3 separate regions of the Homo sapiens genome follow, and regions 2 and 3 are each linked to region 1. The links come from fine-mapping of genetic effects on gene expression. A gene starts in region 1. Each other region holds a variant in brackets. All regions are shown on one strand. Distances are from middle to middle.

Region 1 (5,000 bases):
TAGTTTTATAGACTCTCAAACACTATGCTAATGGAATTCAAAGAACTGAGTAATATTAGCTGTTAAATGTCATTTGGAATTTTAATGTGACATCTTTAGTTCTAGCCATAGTTTCCATCAGATTTTAAAAAAGAGACTCTAAGTACTTTTTTTTGAGATAGGGTCTTGCTTGGTTGCCCAGGCTGGTCTTGAACGCCAAGGCTCAAGTGATCCTCCTGCCTCAGCTTCCCTCAGCCTCCTGTTTAGCTTGTATTACAGGCATGGGCCACCACGCCCGGCTCCTAAGTACTATTAACCCTGATATCCATGATCAAGTAATTCTTAAAGCAGAAATAATTTTTTAAAGAACTATTTAAATTTATCAGTGAAAAACTTATGTAGTCTTATTTATCTAAGCCAGCCCAATTCCGCATTATCTTGAAAATATTACTGAAACAATATAATAGGTCATCTTAAGACTTTCTATTACATAAACATTATTTAAGAGACACTGTCACTGACCCTGGAGGGCTTTACAAAGCCACTGCCATCCTTGTTCAGGGAGTGGGGAGGTGTGGCAGGCTGGCTACTATAAGTATGCATAAAGATAGGCTTTTACATTTAGGTAAAGGAAAAAAAAGCTCAATGAAAAACACTTTATATCAAGAGTATATCTCATGAGTACTCACTAAACAGAAATACATCTAGAAGAAAAGCCATGTTGCTTTAATTTAAAATATTTGCACACTGAATTAATATCTTAAATATTTATTCAGTGTTATCTAAAAGCAACCAAAGAGAAATATAAAATTACTTAACTATAGGTCTTAAATATTAGGCCTACAAAAATTTGTTCACCATAATTTTTGACAAAGTAATTTACGTTGTAAAGTGGTTTGCTCTTGAATGACCTAATTAATGGCATAAAAGCTTCACTAACAAAAGAAAAGATCCACTGTTTCATACATAATTTATTAAGATTTCGTATAGGATTTATGTTAAATCAAAGAATTTGAGCATCACTTTCGTGATGTAGAATCAAAGTGTCCAATACATTCCAATGACAAAACATTCATAGCCTGACATTATTCCTACTTTAAAAAACAGTAATTTTTTTTCTGCTGTTCAGGCTGCATTTATAAACTATGGCTTCTTGTAAATGGGCTTCTACCCCAGCATTTGCTGCAAGGTTTCTTATTCCTCTGCAGTTGTCTTTTCGGCCTAACAGAGGGAGAAAAAGCACTGCTGCAGTCGTCCGCAAAAAGCCACTACCACTGCATTTTGTAACTAACAAAGACACTGGTATCTGTTTGCCACCCTGTTCACAGGGAGTTTACTTAGATGTTTTACAAAAGCAGGCACACTACTGGTGACCAGTATTTCACCAACCAACACCACCACTCACGCTCTGCAGTACCTGCCTCCTCCTCTTTCTCTCATCCCCAGTAGCTCTTTCCACTAGATTCACATCAGCCATCTGCAGCGGTTTTGTCTCCTCTCTCTTTTGGCCACCAATGCATGTGTCCTTGTCGCCAGGGAGGAAAAGAAGCCTTTCAATGGGGTAGAGCTTTTGCTCCTCGCCATGAATATGCTCCATTCTTTGTTGTCCTCTACCCGTTTCCTTAGATACTGTTATTCCACTCTGTCAAATGGCATTATAAAAACAAAAACCCCTTCTGGCTTCAAAAACAGCTTTTCTCAGCAGACTCCCCTTAACACTTCTACCCCTCCCCCTTCTTCCTCTTCTGTCAAAAACCCTGGATCCGAAGTACAGGAAATCCATCTCCAGTGCTGCAGTGGGGGGCGGGGGGACGACGCCCCTGCCTCCTCGTTTGGCATGCTGCAGTGGACCCTGTGCCAAGGAAAGGCCATCGGTTTAAGACAGTGCGAGGGAAAACCACCTTCCCCCCTCCCCCCGCAGCAAGCCTGGCCATGGTGGCTCCAGCACCTACCCCATTTCCGAGTCCGGCAGCACCTCCATTCTGTCTCCAGTGACACCCTGGCGGGCTGCACCAATACAGCCACATGTCGGTCACGTGCGCCCACACCCAGCCAATCGGCGGGCTCCCGACGGGAATGGGGAGCGCCCTGGTCCGCATCCAGCGGATTACACAGCTGCTTCTCTCTCCGCTTCCCGACCCGCACTCCGCAGTGGGGCACAGGGCCCCGCCCAACCGCACAGCCTGCCTAGCCCTAGCCCCGTACCCCTCGGGGGTATGCCCTCGCGGCCCCAGTCCCCAGCAAGCAAGGAAGTTGATGGCAGTTGACACGCATAGTAAAGAGTCGGGGGAGGTCCGCAGGGCAGAAGGATTAGCACAAGATGCCGGAGGTGGGAGGGAGAGTAATAAATTACATCTCGATTGCTATGATTTTTGCAGCACAGAGAAACAATAATATTAAATGAATTACAATGAATAATTTTACATTACAAGTCACTGAGTTGTCAGAGTGATGACTTGTTAGATAGATCACTCGAATTATATTTGAATTAAAAATAGTTACCAGAAAAGCTATGCTAGCAGCTTAGTAGTGGAGATCAGAACTCTGGAAGTCTGGGTTGCCTGAGTTGAAGCTTTACTCCTGTCACTCTAGCTCTGTAACTTTAGTTACTTAACCTCTCAGTGTTTCAATTTCCTGCTGTATAAAACGGGAACAGAAGTACAGAATAGAGGAGTTAATATATATGAAGTATTTAGAGCAGTCCCTGACACATACATAGAAGTGCTGTTAGCTACTACAAATCTGAGGCTTTAATGTAGTATTTTAATGCAAATTCTACATTGCATTTAAATCGAACCAGGTGATGCTTAAATTCCCAATTTTATGAGGTTGAAGGACAAAATCCAAACTGTCAAGAATATATAAAGTTAAACTTAAATTCTGGTTTAAATGGGGGGAAACCAGTTTCTATTATCTATTTAAAATTTAAAAGGATACTATACTTCAAGTTTTCTTTGTTTGTTTTTTGAGATAGAGTCTTGCTCTGTCACCAGGCGAGTGCAGTGGTGCAATCTCCGCTCACTGCAACCTCCACCTCCCGGGTTCAAGCGATTCTCCTGCCTCAGCCTCCCAAGTAGCTGGGACTACAGGCACGTGCCATCATGCCCAGCTAAGTTTTGTATTTTTAGTAGAGACGGGGTTTCACCATGCTGGCCAGGATGGTCTCAATCTCCTGACCTTGTGATCCGCCCACCTCGGTCCCTCCAAGTACTGGGATTACATGCGTGAGCCACTGTGCCCGGCCTAAACTTAAAGTTTTTAAATGAAGCATATTATAATCGTTTCTTAATTTTCAAATAGTATGAAAAGAAGCAAGCTATTAAATAGCATATTTGAGGCAATTCCATTTGATTAAAAAATGTATATATTAGAAAAGCAATAGACACACAACAAAATGTCCATAGAGGTTATTCCTGGAAAGTGAGATTATGGAGCTATTTCTGCTGTCCTTTCGTGCTTTGTTTTTTTTCTCTTTCATTAGTCCCTGTGTTACAATGCCTGATATACAGCAAATACACCCCAAATATTTATTTAACAAGTGAGTTATTTCCACACTGATGGCATACTACTGTTCTATTAAAAGTTTAAATATATTTAGAAACAATTTCCCTTCATATTTGAAATAAATAAAAGCATGTAAATCAATTTGATTATATTCTAAATAACTCTCTTTTGAGAATGACTTCATTTTACAAAAGGCTTTCAAAATCCTCTTACTGAAAGCACATGATTCACTGCACAGGACTTATTTACAAGTCATTTTTTGTGACAAATTCAGAATAGGTAATTTCTCATAAGGCCTAGAACTTCCAGAAGGAAAACAGTCTTTCAAAACAAAGAATACCTTTTAAAAGGTCCTCAAAAGAACTTCTTAGTACCCTAAGACACAATTGTAAGCCTATTACTCTTGACTCAGACTATGATACAAGCTATTATTTAGTAAACCAGTTTGTAGCCAAAATGTTTGTCTAAATTTTTACTGCATGTATCATAGATATTCATCAGTGACTTAAATGACATAGTTGTAAAGAAAGCTACGACCATTATATGTTCATTAGTCACTATGCTTCAAATCTAAAAGAAAGCCAAGTTAAACATTTTGTATTTTATGTTGCCAATTACTCAGTAATATTTTTCTTATTTTTAGAGATTCCACAAAAGTTTAATTTGAATTTTTAAAACTGCTTAGCTATTTTAAAACTATAATTAAATATAGATATATAATCAAAGTATACTGGGCCAAATTTCAGCATGGAAAATTACTGAAGCATTACCTTGTCTTATCAAGTTTGCACATAGCTCAGAATAAAGCTCCTGCCATCTCTATTTGATTGAAGATGTTATTTACACTACATATACATATATATATATATATATGTATGCATTAAAAATATTTTCTGGGCAGGGTGCAGTGGCTCATGCCTATAATCCCAGGAATTTGGGAGGCCGAGGTGGCCAGTTCACTTGAGCTCAGGAGTTGGAGACCAGCATGGGCAACATGGCGAAACCTCATTTCTACCAAGAATACAAAAAAATTAGCCAGCTGTGGTGACACGCGCCTGTGGTCCTAGCTACTCTAGAGGCTGAGGTGGGAGGATCACTTGAACCCAGGAGGCAGAGGTTGCAGTGAGCCGAGATCTCGCCATTGTACTCCAGCCTGTGCAACAGAGACCATGTCTCAAAAGATATATATATTTTTTCTGATCAAAATGAAACAGAAATAAATTGTGTAACACTGTTTAAAGACCGCACTGACAAACATATCTCTTATTTTCAGTATCAGTGTTTGTTATAACCAGCTTCATTGCTTTTAGTAAATGGTTTCATATGTAAATGTTGTAAATATGAACATATAATTCAACTTAAAAAACCCTTCTGAACCTTCTGCAGCTACAAAAAAAAATGACTAAATAGGATTAATAGGATTCTTAATGTCTTAAATATTACATTCCCCAGCTACTTGGGAGGCTGAGGCATGAGAATCTCTTGGACCTGGGAGGTGGGGGCTGCAGTGAGCCGAG
Region 2 (7,009 bases), 31 kb after region 1:
GATGAGGCTTTGCCATGTTGCCTAGGCTGGTCTCGAACTCCTGGACTCATGCGATCCATGCGCTTTGGCCTCTCCCAAAGTGCTGGAATTACAGGCATGAGCCACCACACCCTGCCAAAGTGAGAGGTTTTAAAGAGTTTGTGGTCAGATGTTTTTTGATACAGAGCTACAAATCATTTTGCCAGAAGCAGTGAGCCACTGATTGGGGCTCAGCAACCCCTGCTTTGCTACTGCCCCTTCAAACTGTATGCAGAGAATTCAGAGACAACCAGCTCTAAAAACACACAGGCTCTGGTTCCAGAAAAGTGAAGGCTAGCAACGAATGAACTAGCCCATACAAGAAGCAAACATAAAAATATTCCTCCTTCTTTTAAGCTGAACAATTCTATCTCTAAATTTTAAAAATGCATTAAAAGGTCAAAAGTCCACAGTAAAGGGAAAAATAGATTATGTGTTATGAGACAGAATGAAAAGTAAACAAATCTGCCAGGCTATTTATAACCCACACGTTAAAAATTTTTAACATACAATTCTAATACAGCAGGCATAGTTTGTGCTTAACAACTTTGGAGAACATCTAGCATAACTTCAAGAAAACGATATTGCTCAATTTAATGTTAATAAAAAAGGTCCACCCATTTGCAATTTCAAAGGGCAAGCTATCATTTATATTTTTAATCTCACTTCTACAATTTTGGGGCTCTTGACACGTTATCCAACCCTTCCATCCAGGGAAAGATGGAAAAATTAGCCATGGCAACTTCCTCCACTACCGCTTTGATCCCACATTTTGCACTTAGACTCTGGCAAGGTACTACGTTATTTAGGACAGTTTTTTACACCAGTAATTCTGACTACCCTTGCTCCACTAATAAAGGAGGGAGTACTGAGACTGGCACAAGACTAAATCATATAGAAAATATCAAGTACTCCTAAGGAGGGTTGAACAGTAACAACAATCGAGAATACAAGCAATTTAAGAAGTTTTGAACTTAAAAAGCTTTTCTCCATTTTAGTCCTTTCTAAATAGAAACAAAGGGCTTGTACAACATGGAATTCTAAGACGTCAGTAGGCAATTTAAGCTAACACTGAATAAAAGAATAAATCACTTATCCTTGCTTGTACCATTAAGTGATGTCTTACATGTACTGCATAAGGTCTTCTTTTTTAAAACGAATATAACAGTTTCCAATTCTTTCACTAGATCTAGAAAGCTCACGCCCCCACCTCAACAGTTCAGAGACCAAAGATTTCCTACAGCCGAAAAAAATGAATGATTTAGATGAACAATCATTTGCCAACAGAGGCACCATTCCTCTACTTGGTGGGTCAAGGAGTCAGACTCTGACCTAACCATCCAAGGCTCCTGGGGACTTGATTCTCCCATCAAAGTGAACAAAATTCACCGGCCTTTGGATAACAGCCCTTTCTTTGTAACTCCACATGCCGGGCTATCAGGTATTTTCCCAGGCAGAGAGTTTAAAACTTTTAGAGGAAGCAAGAGGGTCCAAACGAGGAAGATGGGGAAGCGACTAAAATGGGAAGGGCGGACGACCCACCCACCTAACGCGAATGGGGCACCACTTGCAGGGGCGAAGCTCCAGCAGCAGCCAGGAAAGGTGGAGGACGGCGGGCGTCGCGACCCCCATCCACTGCGTGAGAATGGAGGACCTGCAAAGCCAGGGGCCAACTGGAGGCCTGAATGGGGAGTGCGGGGAGGGGAGAGGGTGAGACATGGAGAGAAGAGAGCCACAGAGTCGGGCCGAGCACCGTAGGGTCCCGAGCAGCGGCGGGGCAAAGCCGAGGAAGCTTTGCCGGGAGGAGACGTCAATGCCTGCAGCCTCACTCACCTGCCAGACGCTCGCCCAGTGGCCAGAAGTACGAGCGCCGCCCGGGCTCTTCGTCTCCTGCCGGACGCAGCTCCTGCTGCCGCCGGTGCTCCAGGACCCGAGAACTGAGGGTGGTACAGAAGCGGGCAAAGGGGCGACCGGACCCGAGCCCAGGGAGGCGTACATAGGGGGCGCCGAGGCCCGAGAAGGCAACTGAGTGCTTCACCTTCCTCACCAACAGCCAACAACAGTACCTGGGAACAGCATCGAGCCAACCTCGGTCCGCAGCTCCCGGGCCTGAGCCCGCAGGTCCCCCCC[G/C]AGCAGCGGCTAGGCTTCCGGCGGCCACACCCCGCCCCCTTGCTACTTGCCCTCCGCCATCTTGTGGGAGGTGGGAAGACTACAATGCGCATGCGTGAGAGGTGTTGCTGGCTTCCCACAGCCCGGAGACTAGAGCCTGTTATGCGCAGGCGCAATGGGTGCTGCGCTCCGCTTGCCGGGCACTGCTTCGCTGTTCTGTCCCGTGAGCCATTGCTGCCTAGGCAGCCGAGTCTCAGTTGCAGCACTTACTGGCCTTCTCTGAATTGTGCTGCAGCCCAGTTAATAGATCCTTCTGCACACACTAGTCCATTATTCCGCAAACATCTATCGAGTGCTCACTATTTGCTACTCCCCGTACTAGACGCTGATGATAGAAAGATGAATAAAATTCTGTCCCAGCCCCACAAGGGCTCATAAGATAGCGGAGAAACGGAGATGAGCAAGTTATTATTTTGTAGCTGCGACCTCTGCTTCCCTACCACCTCTCACTACCACCCTGTAGTTTTAATTTAAAAACACCTCTTCCGGGAAATCCTTGTTTGTCTCACACAGTTTGATAAGTTCTTTACCTTGGATTACCTCTTCAGTTTCATTTCATTCAACATTAATTGAACAATATCATTTGGGTTTCCGATATATACTAGATACTGTTTCAGGCTCTAGATTTACAGCAATAGGAAATACAATAAACTCACGGAACTTACATTCTAGTGTGAAAGAATAGACAATAAAAGACAGTCAACAAAAGAATGTTTGATGGTGATAAGGGATAGGAAGAGAGCAAACCACACAGAAAGATGATGGACAGTGAGAGGTGGTGATTAGTGATCTTTCTCCAGAGTTGACATTTAATCTGAAGCCTGACTGACCATGGGGGCCCAGGAGCCACTGGAAGATCTGGGGCAAAAGCTTTCAGACAGAGGGAACAACAGAACAGATCCTGAGGTGGTAGCAAGTCTGACATGAAAGAGGGACAGAAAGAATAGGTGACATGGACAGTGGGAAGGAGATGTGGTCGGGGTAGGCAGAGGCCAAATCAGGTAGGGCCTCCAGGTCATGGTAAGAAGTTGGATTTTATTCAAAATGGCCCTTGTATGTTGTTGACGCTGTCTCCCCTAGCCCCCACTACTCCTCTTCAAACACTTCTAGCTCCCGACTGCCTTTCTGGTTTGTATATGCCCCCTTGACTACCTAGAAGACACTTCTTCTTGTTCTTTAAATGTCTAACTTCTTATCTTTCAAGTTTCAGTTTAAATATCACCTCAGAAAGACCGTCCTTCCTAAGAATAATAAATTTTCCCCTGTCTTCCTTATTATTCTCAATCATTGCACCTTATCATTTCTTCCATGGTACTCAATATGTTTTTAAATGATCTATGTTTTGTTTCTTCACTGCCTCCACACTAAACAGTCGACTCCATAAGACAGGGAATACGTTTTGTTTACCAATGAATACACAGTGCATAGCACCATACCTGGCATGAGTGCTCTGTCACTCAGTGTTTGTTGATTTAATAAGTGTGGAAGTTTGTCAGCATCTAAGTAGTTGGTGGTGTACTATATTGGTTTCACTTGGTTTTTAAAATGAAATGCAAGTCACTTCTTATTTATATGTCTCCTCAGCTAGAATATAAGTAGGAAGGTTGGAGAGAGAGCAGATGGGATGGAGAAGGGTGGGTGATTGTGGGACAGTGGGCAGGGTTTATATTACATATGTTGTAGTATGGAGAGAAGGAAGGCTTCAAGTTAATGCAATCCCTATTATATGTGCTGTGAACTATGTTAGATATGAAATCCTCACCACAGCCCTGCTAGATAATTATCCTCACTTTTATACATGGGCAAATTCAGAGAGATTAAGTCCCTTGCCCAAGGTCTCACATTAAGGGATAGTGCTGACCATAAAGCCCATGCCCTTCCCATCTAGAGAAATTGGATTTGGAGACAGGCTTACTCAGAGATTTGATTCTGTGTCATTAGCAGGCTTTCATTAGAGATTTCATTCAGTTACCCCCACTTAAGGGTCCCAGTCGTATTACTATCCCTGTGTAGGACCTCAAAGGGCCTGCCTGGAAACTACTGTCGTTCTTTTCTTTTGAACTAGAGCAGAACTCATTTTAGCATTTTCCTTTTAATGTTTTTTAAATTCTGTATTTATTTTTATTAATAACATATATATTTTCATTAAAGGAAAAGAAGAAATACCAGCAAAATGGATACATAGTCTAAAGGCTAGCTGCATCTATTGGTTAGGCTTCTCAATGTGCCTAGATGGGACTTGCTGGCCCATCTAGGACCCAGCTGATACCTTAGACCCCCAAAGACCCTTCTGGAAAAGAGTTATAGGCTCACTGCAACAACCTCTTCTTCCATTGACTTATCAGAATTACACACCATCATTTCCCCTCTAAATGGGATAGCTGCCTCAGGATGGCTGGGGAGACCTGCCAGAAAGGATGGGGCTGGCATCTTATCTGTGGGGGCCATTTAGTCCTTATATGAGAGAAGAGATTCACTGAACCCATAACATATGCTCTTCAACCAAGCCCTATCAGTCCATATGCAAATCAAGTAGTAGGTAGGAATATATACTTGAAAACACTTCCCCGCCTTCTACCTCACTACAATGTAATCCTTGGAATAAATCCTAGAAACAAGACAAAGTCTTCAGTTTCTATGGTATTTACTTCTCTTATGGTTACCATCTGTTAGAGACTGAATTGTACTACTCCGAAAAAAGGTATGTTGAAGTTCTGACTTTCAGTACCAAACAATGTACCCTTATTTTGAAATAAAATTATTGCAGATATAATTAAGATAAAATGAGGTCATACTGCAATAGGGTAGGATAACCCACCATGACTACTGTCCCTTTAAGAAGATGACCGTGTGAAGACATAGACAGAACGTGAGGATGCCAGATGAGGACAAAGGCAGATTGGAGTTATGCAGCTACAAGCCAAGGAATGCCAAAGACTGCCAACAAACCATCAGAAGCTAGGAAGAGGCATGCATGGACTTTCCTACAGGTTTCAGAGGGAACATGGCCCTGTGGACACCTTGACTTTGGATTTATAACTTTCAGAACTCTGAGTCAATAAATGTCTGTTGTTTTAAGCCACCCAATCTGTGGTACTTTGTTATAACAGCTCTATGAAATTAATACACCATTTTATCTGGCAGGGCCTGAAATAGAGGAAAGAGATGTTGGCAGGCAGTGAGAAGGCTTGAGCTACCGCTCCAGTATGAGCAAGCCAGCTGCACAACCTCAAGCCAGTCGCTGAACAACAGTTTCCTCATCTGTACAAACAGAGATAATGACAGCCACCCTGCCTACTTCAAAGATCTGCAGTGGTAACTAACAAGTATTCCTCCAGTGATGCTGTGACCAAGGTCTGACAGATACTAAGAAACAATTATGTAAAGACAGGGTTCCTGCCACAGGGAATTTTACAGTCTGGCTGAGAAAACTAGACACTTTCCTATGATAAGATAAATAGTATGGGCAAAGTGCCAAGTGCGTGGTTTGGATCTTATTCACTATTGATGCTGAAAAAGGGAAGGATCCTGTGGACTGGGGTGGAGAGGGAGACTTCATGAAGGGCCTTAGCAGAAAAGGAATTTATTAGAAGGATATTTGACATCTACAGGATCTTCAGGAACAACACGCAACATTATGCCCGGAACTGGTCCCAAGAAGCCATCACTGTAGCCACTGCTGGATGCAAATACCAAAACTGAGACTGCCAGTACCACTTGACCCAGAGTGGATGATGCCTCTGCTGCTTCTGGAAGATAGATGCAGTTACTATCACTGCCACTACTCTCAACAGAATGGAGGGTCACTTCATATTCACAACATTAGCTTTCAACCTCAAGCCTAGAATGGGGGCAAATCATGGATATAACCTAGTAACACATTAACACTCTACCTACATGCTGTCTGATAGAAATATAATGCAAGCCACATACATAATTTTAAATTTTCTAGTAGCCACATAAGACAGTTTAAAAACAAAAACAAAAACAAAAAACCAGCCTCTAATCCAAGCAGTTTGGGAGGCTGAGATGGGAAGATTGCTTTAGACCAGGAATTTGAGACCAGCCTGGGTAATATAGTAAGACATTGTCTCTACAAAAAAATATTAGCTGGGCATGGTGGTGCATGCCTGTAGTCCTAGTTACTCAGGAACCTGAAGCCGGAGGATCACTTGAGCCCAGGAGTTCCAGGCTGCGGTGAGCTATGATTGTGACACTGCACTCCAGCCTGGGTGACGGGGGGGAGACCCTGACTCTAAAGCAAAACAAAAACCAGGTGAAACCAATTTTAATAATATATTTTATTTAACCCAATATATCCAAAATATTTCAACATGTGCCACTAGACATACGTCAAGTGCTCAGTAGCCACGTGTGGCCAGTGGCTACCATGTTTGACAGCACAGCGGTAATTGATAGGAAGGCCAGGAAAATGAGCATATGAACTTCTAATTTCGATAGTGAGAGGGAATTTCTGCTTCATGAGGAGGGCAATCTCCTAAACACAGTAAGAGAATTAAGACATAGTCTTACAAATGGAAAATAAAGTTGAAGGAAAACCAAACTGGATTGTAGAGAATGGAAAATGGTAAACTAAGGACATTTAATTTCATCATGTAGTGACTGAGAGCCACTGAAGGTTTGTGAAATGGGGAAGTATTTTGAAAATTTAATAAAAGTACCATGAAGGGGTAGGTGATAAAAAACACTTGAAGTTAGAATTTCTGGGCTTAGTTATGTTTTTTTTTTTTAATCTGTGCAGCTTTATACAAGTTGTCTCTCTGGATTTTTCTTCTCATCTTCAGACATGGTGCTTATAATA
Region 3 (7,009 bases), 200 kb after region 1:
AGTCCATATTGCAGTCCACTTTGCTTATGTATTTTACTTGCCTGTTCCCTGGAGGCATTTGCTACCCCATGGGCATTGTATCCCGTAATACGAACCCATGAAGCTAAAAGCTCAAAAGTTCAGGTCCGCAATATCTCTGCTTAGTTTTCTGCTTAGTTAATACAATTTTAAGAAATTAATATTGAAAATACGTGCTCACAAAAATTAAAACACTGTATAAATATAGAAGTGTATACAGTAAAAACTACAAGACCAGTGACCTTGTTGATCCAACAATTCCCTTTCCTCTTTTCCCAGAAATAATACTGTTAACAGTATCTTTTCCATTCTATTTCTGCAAATATAATTCTTTATCCAACAACTGTTACCTATTTTTTGTCAGGCCATACGTGTATACAAATATTGGGTCCCACACATGTATAAAGAGTGATGTGGTATATTAAAGTAATTATCTGTGTAGTTAACAAAAAATCCTCTTGTTGAAATGTCTGAATAGTAGAGGAAAAATACTTTTTAATTATCTGGCTAATTGCCTCCATTAATCATCCTTTCATGTTCTTTCTTCATGGAATGAATTCATCCATTCAGTAGATATTTACTGAGTTCTGATTATGTTCAAAGCACTGTGCTAGACAAAGTGGGAATTACAGAGATAAACTAAAAACAAGATCAACAACATTACCGTAGGAAAGAGGTGATCAATTTTTGCCTCCCTCAAAAGAGATGAAGGTGTTGGATTTGGAATTAAACTTACTCTATTTTCAGTGGACCACGTCTAAAATGTGAGAGATTACAAAAGTCCCAGGAATGATCCAAACCTAATAGCTCAAAAGAAGTTTCAGCAGAGTGGAGGACCTGGGTGGTGCATAGATGGCAGGAGATAGACCCACCCAGCAGTGAGGCTGAGGTGAGTACAAGGGAGAGCTCAGTGATAAAGGAAGACCTCTGAGGATACTGGCCCCAAGATGTTTGGCTTGTGTTCAGGCAGATAAAAACCACCATGGGCACGGACTGTGAGTCTTCTTCTCTCCCAAGAAGATTTTGATGACAATTTTACTAAGATGAAGTTAAGATGAGACAGCAACAAAGGCAGAAATAAAATTAGAGATGTGCTTGCGAGAGATTTAAAGAGAAAGCAGAATTTTGCCCTTGAGGTCTTCTTAGTTATACCTCAGTTACCTAGAAATAATATATTTTTGTTGTTGGAACACTCTCCCTAATTACAGAATGATAAACAAAACAAAACAAAACAAAAAACAAAACAAACAAAACCCTGTCAATCTTTAAAGAAATGAACAACCAAAAAAGGGTTACCATAAGGACTTTTGTTTCCTCTGTAGATTTTCAGACAGTTGGGGCCTCTTGGAAATTATAGAAAACCCCTGTTTGTTCTAGATTGGCAGCCACTGCAAATGTATGTAATGAAGGCACGGAGCAAGCAGGCCTCATGGAGCGGAATGATAAGGTGGTATAATTTGTCCCTCACTTTCCTTTTATATTTATTCAATGGGGAAAGTTTTCCCTTGGCTCTTGGATAAAAAACATCAGCAGTCCTATGGCTTTCCTTAACACACTTAACTAATAAAACGATTGCCACTCTTAGTCACCAAGCACAGTCTCAATTCGGAAGTCAAAATTTCTCATCCCATATAAGGCAAAACTCTGAACCTGATTCAAATATAAATCTTCCCTCCCCTACCAGGAAGCCTTCAACTGGAGGAGGGGTGTAGTTGGTTCCTTTTCCCTTCCTATGCCCTTCCTCCCCCAGCCTGATAATTGTGCTTTCTTAACCTTCCAGATCTGAAAGCAAAGAAAGAGAAGAATTAAAATAACCATGAGAGGTTTTACTTGACTGCTGCTACTACAAGGTGGCTTTGCAGCTCTTTTCCCAAGTTCTTGTCTTTTCCCATTCTGAACAATTCGGTCCTGAGCTGATTAGCTGATGCCCACCCAGATTGAGGGTGGGTCTGCCTCTCCCAGTCCACTGACTCAAATGTTAATCTCCTTTGGCAGCACCCTCACAGACACACCCAGAAACAACACTTTGCCTCCTTCAGTCCATTCAATATTAACTATTACAGTTGGCTATGGTGCCCAGAATGGGGTGTCAGAGCCCAAGTTGGGTGAGGAGGGCCTTGCCTCAGAGGGGTGCATTGGTGTGGCATGTCAGACCCCAAGCAGGCTGAGGAGGGCATCTGCACCAAGAAGGCTGTCCAGGGCCAGACACTGGAGTCAAATGAGTTGAGGTGGGTATTTGCATGGGAGTATGGGCTGCCTAAGGAAGCCAGAGCCTGTGCAAGGTGAAGAAAGTTCATGCCTTGTCACACATGGGGTGGCAGCCTGGTGCAGAGTTGGAACCCAAGGAGGAGGGTGGTCTTGTGGAGGGTATCAGAGCATGGACAGGGTGAGGAAGATGTCACTCCACACAGTGAGGCATGATATTGGCAACTTGCTTTCAAATAATTCTGGAAAAAGTTTTTAGTATTGTACATGCATGCTTCTGTAAGTTTGAGATTGTTTTTTTTTTTTTTTTTTAAAAAAAACCCACAACAATTTTCAAATATTCTCTGGCACTGGCGTGAGTTTAAAGGTAATGATTTCATAGATGCCATCATGTATTCTTTGGAGATTTCACTCCTTGTCCTCTCTCCACTTCCACACCATCTTCAAGGATCTCTCTGCAACTCTGTTCATGTGAATGGTGCCCTCTCATTCGGTGTGTTGCTTATTCCCTCTCCAATCCCTATGAGTCAGACTATGCCATCAGCTTCTCTCTACTGAGGACTTTGCCCTCCTAGGTAGCCCTATTGGACAGGATATAAGATGACCTCATGCCAGCTTTCTTGTGTGTGGTTCACATTTCTGTTATGTAAAATCCATGCATCTCTTGCTCTGACAAATTCTGTGTATGCAGGCCTATGTCAACCCAGCCATCTTTCCCTTGGCTTACCAGTCAGCTGCTGTCCAGCCTGTCTCTCACCCTTGAGTGCTCAGAGGGGAGTCACACTCAAGTGCAGTGTGTCCCCACCCCCAGACTTCAGGAAATACACATTAAGCTCTCTGAGAATTCCCTTTGATGCTTCTTCTTCTAAGTTGAGATGAAAAAACAAGCAATTCACATCCTATTCTTTTGCGAATGAGGTGGTAGAGGAACCCACAGCACATGCAGAGCTTTCAGAAGACATATCACTCTTCAAAAATCCCTTATTTTCATTTCCAGTAGCCAGATGCTTTTATATGCTCAACGTGGATGACGGATTTAAGAGCTGTGCAACTCTGGTTTTGACATGCATCATGGTTATGCAAGATATTAATGTTGGGTGAATGTGGGTGAAGGGTGTGTGAAAACCTCTGTACTATTTTTGTCACTTCTTCTGAATCTTAAGCTATTTCAATATGTAAAGTTATTTTAAAAATGGTCATGCAACTAATTTTCATTTTTGGATAACATCTTGTTTTAGAATGTTGGATTTGGATTTAGAATTAAACTTACCCTGTTTTCAGTGGATCAAGTTTGAAATGTTGTCTCTTTTGTGTT[T/G]TGATGTCAGAAGTTCTAATTTAAAATCTTAAGTAGTGTGAGATCATGGCCGACAGGATGGGGGCAGGACTAGATTGCAGCTCTGGACAAAGCAGTGGAGGGCAGCTCACATTGTGAATTTTAGCTCCAGATAGACTGCAAGAACAAACCAGCAATCCCAAGAAGACCCACAGACCCTCCGAAGGAAGTGGACTGCTCCTAGAGGATCCAGGAGACCCTCCCAAAACTGTGAGTGCCCCAACTGTGGAAGTGAGAAAGGGAGACCTTCCTCTCCCAAACACACACCCACACTGTAGCAGGACAAGCTGCAGTCAAAACCCCTCAGACACTGAGTTAAAGAAGGAAGGGCTTTATTTAGGCAAGAGCTTTAGCAAGACTCACGTCTCCAACAACCGAGCTCCCCAAGTGAGCAATTCCTGTCCCTTTTAAGGGCTCACAACTCTAAGGGTGTCCGCTTGAGAGGGTCGTGATCAATTGAGCAAGCAGGGGTACATGACTGGGGGCTGCATACATCGGTAATTAGAAAGAAACTGAACAGGACACGGATCTTCACAGTGCCTTTTTTATGCAAATAACTGATTAGGTCAGGGGTCGATCTTTAACTACCAGGCCCAGGGTGTGGCACCGGGTTGTCTGTTTGTAGATTTCATTTCTGCCTTTTAGTTTTTACTTCTTCTTTCTTTGGAGGCAGAAATTGGGCATAAGACAATATAAGGGGTGGTCTCCTCCCTTATTCCCCCCATTTGAGAATCTCACTCAATAGTGGGAGTTCTCACTTTCATCCTCACTACCCATGTCTTCTTGCAAGACAGATCGATGGTGATTCATATAGTACACTTGTGCTGGAGTATTTTGGAGAGCTAAGGTAGCGATGAAGCTTTTTTATCATTTGAAGAAGTACAGGTAGCAAACAAGGGAGCAGTAAGCAGGTTTTTATTACTATTATAACTCCTATTATAAGAGTTTTAAATCCTCCTAGCACTGGGAGCCATTTTCCAAACATGGCTTCAGGATCAAATCCATGCCACACTTGCATGGACACGTGTGCCAGTTTTGTCATATCTCTAACTATGTCTTCAACCACTCGCCCTTGATCATCTATGTGTAGACAGCAATTAGTAAGGTTAAATTTCCCACAGACCCCTCCTTCAACTGCTAGCAAGTAGTCGAGAGCCAATCTACTTTGATAGATAGCATTTCTCATCTGAGTTTCTTGCCAGGCCAGAATAGTCAAGGCTCTGCTGGTTGTATCAGTGGTTATTTCTAAGACAGCTTGTAACCGTATGATTTGGTTCATCATGTAAATGGGGGTCCGGCGTCCCCATGAGCTGTCTTGTGCCCAAGTAGCAGGCCCATAATATTGTATGATTCCCTCAGGGGACCATTCATCATCTTTCCAATTTCCTATAGCTTTGCTTCTCTTTTCACTGGAAGCATAGACAGGGAAGCCCAGGAGTTCACCTGTCTTTATGGGCAGTAGAAAGAAAGATGGTTTAATAGTGACAATAACACAACTACCCGCCCACTGTTCGGATAATTTGGCATAAGCTCTATGCCCACATATCCAGTATAATCCAGTGGGGGCTGTCCAGTCCCGGTGGGACTCCGGGTGGGTCCACACGGTTTGCAACTTTGGGAATTTACTAAGTGGATTCCTCTCTGTGTGATTTGAACTCCACCAAGTGACTGTCTTTGTGGTGCCATTATACAGTTTCTGTTCCAGACAACTAAGTCATTCTACGGGGTAAGTGAATTCTTTTCCTTCTCTAGCTATGCAATATTGTCCAATAATTGAGGCTTTTAGGACTCAGAAATTATTAGAGTGATTCTTTTGAGCCAGGAATTCATCAGGAGCTGGGTCTGTATGTACTAATTTTCAGGCTTCCCATGGCCATTGATCTCCCACTGCAGTTCCTCCACAGACATAACATGAAGTGACATTGAGAGACTGGGCTACATGCTTGGCTAATTGCAAAAACAAATTTCTTGTTTTTCCTGGAATTTCTGGTACTGGCACATTTAGTTCATCATAGAAAGTTTGAAACACTGGCTCAGGAGAGTGTTTGTAAACTTCTCCTCAAACTAAGAAATTTACTCGAGGATCCAGTCTGGCCCCATTGATTCCTAAGGTCACATGCTCCCCTTTTCTCCAGCGTGGATCAAGGGGATTGGTTATTACTAGCTCTAAGGTGTTACCTTGTCCCTTAGTACAGGAAGGGCCATTTTTTCCTTTCTGAAGGTGGACTGGATCCTTTTCATTTTTTATCCAAGTGGCCCAAATGACACAAGACCAGTATCCACATTCATTTCCACACAGTCCTAATTCATGACAAATGTACTTATTTTTGGTCACATAGCCTTTTTCCCAACTAAAAGAGCTATATCCCCTTCCTAACTTATTGCTATTAATGACACCACAGGTATCAAATTTCAAGATTGTGCATCTGGGCACCCCTTTTTCTTCTGTTCTGGCTAATACTTTACTTGTATCATTTATGAGTCCCCACCAGTCTTCAGTCCTTAATTTTATTTCAAAAACTGTGGACATGGGAGGCTCAAAGGGGTCATAACACACATCTGGCCAGTCATTTCCTGGGCTACATACCTTATACTGAGTGTCGTTATATAAACATATTCCTTTTAAATTTCCTGGGCATTCATAGTAACTATAGAACAGAAAGATTGTTGTAACTTGTTGTGCTACCTCGGTAACCTGATGTATACACTGAGAGCAGTCCTACATGTGAGGAAAATCAGTGGAAGTTTTTACTATACAAGTCCAAATTATAAGGAAAGTGAGTCCCACAATGATCCTCCTCATGTTTTGGCTGTGCGTAGACCAGTCAGCTTCCAGGTGTGACTGGAGCAGGGCTTGTCATCCTCCTCAGAGTCACTTTGCAGGGGTTGTCCAGGCTCTGTTTTGCCTCCCAGGTTTCAGCGGCTGCAGGATTCACATGGCTGTGGTGGACCCAGGATGGGATTCCTTCTACCTTTACAGCCTTGGGGGTGGTCAGGATGATGGTCTGAGGTCCTTTCCACCATGGCCACAAAGGGGCTATGTTCCAGTCCTTGATCCACATGCGATCACCTGGAGAGAACGGGTGAACTGGGGAGAGTAAGCTGATGGGATACCTCTCATTTACCCAAGTTGAGATTGTTTGTGTAATTTTTCCTAAAGCCTGTAGCTGTCGCTGTAATTCAATTTCACCTGACACTTGGGGAGTGCCTGAAAGCCCCAGTAGTATGGGAGGAGGCCTATGATACGGTATTTCCTAAGGGGAGTGTCCTGTTTTCTTAGAAGGAGTGCATCTAATTTTAAACAATATCATAGGAAGAGACTGTATCTGCTTTAATCCTATTTCCTGACATACTTTCCCTAAACTATTTTTGATAGTCCGATTCATTCACTCCATCTTTTCCAGAACTCTGAGGTCAGTAGGTGGCACATAGCTTCCAAGTGATTCCTAATGC

Which allele goes with the higher level. Alleles are on the strand shown, and positions count from the first base shown. SD is a standard deviation of normalised expression in the study named. Not every link is listed here.
With allele T in place of G in region 3, the expression in sigmoid colon of the gene that starts at base 1,972 in region 1 is lower (moderate effect, 0.56 SD a copy in GTEx).

The links. PIP is the estimated chance that this variant, and not a neighbour inherited with it, causes the effect.
Region 2: its variant is fine-mapped to the expression of APC in whole blood (TOPMed, PIP above 0.99). The same link has a PIP of 0.9 or more in T cells, blood mononuclear cells, monocytes after LPS, monocytes after Pam3CSK4 and monocytes after R848.
Region 3: its variant is fine-mapped to the expression of APC in sigmoid colon (GTEx, PIP 0.98).

The regions. Positions count from the first base shown.
Region 1 is chr5:112,734,857-112,739,856 of GRCh38, reverse strand. APC (APC regulator of Wnt signaling pathway) reads right to left here and starts at 1,972. Exons shown (of 16, transcript NM_000038.6): 1 at 1,932-1,972.
Region 2 is chr5:112,702,725-112,709,733 of GRCh38, reverse strand. It overlaps a transcript of APC not described here. Among named protein-coding and RNA genes, the nearest start is that of APC, 32 kb to the left of the region's middle. RefSeq lists enhancers at 2,197-2,256, 5,288-5,582 and a silencer at 5,288-5,582. The variant G/C (reference allele first, on the strand shown) is at 2,149.
Region 3 is chr5:112,529,454-112,536,462 of GRCh38, reverse strand. LOC124901043 (a long non-coding RNA gene) reads right to left here. Exons shown (of 2, transcript XR_007058901.1): 2 at 6,051-7,009. Among named protein-coding and RNA genes, the nearest start is that of LINC02200, 95 kb to the left of the region's middle. The variant T/G (reference allele first, on the strand shown) is at 3,539.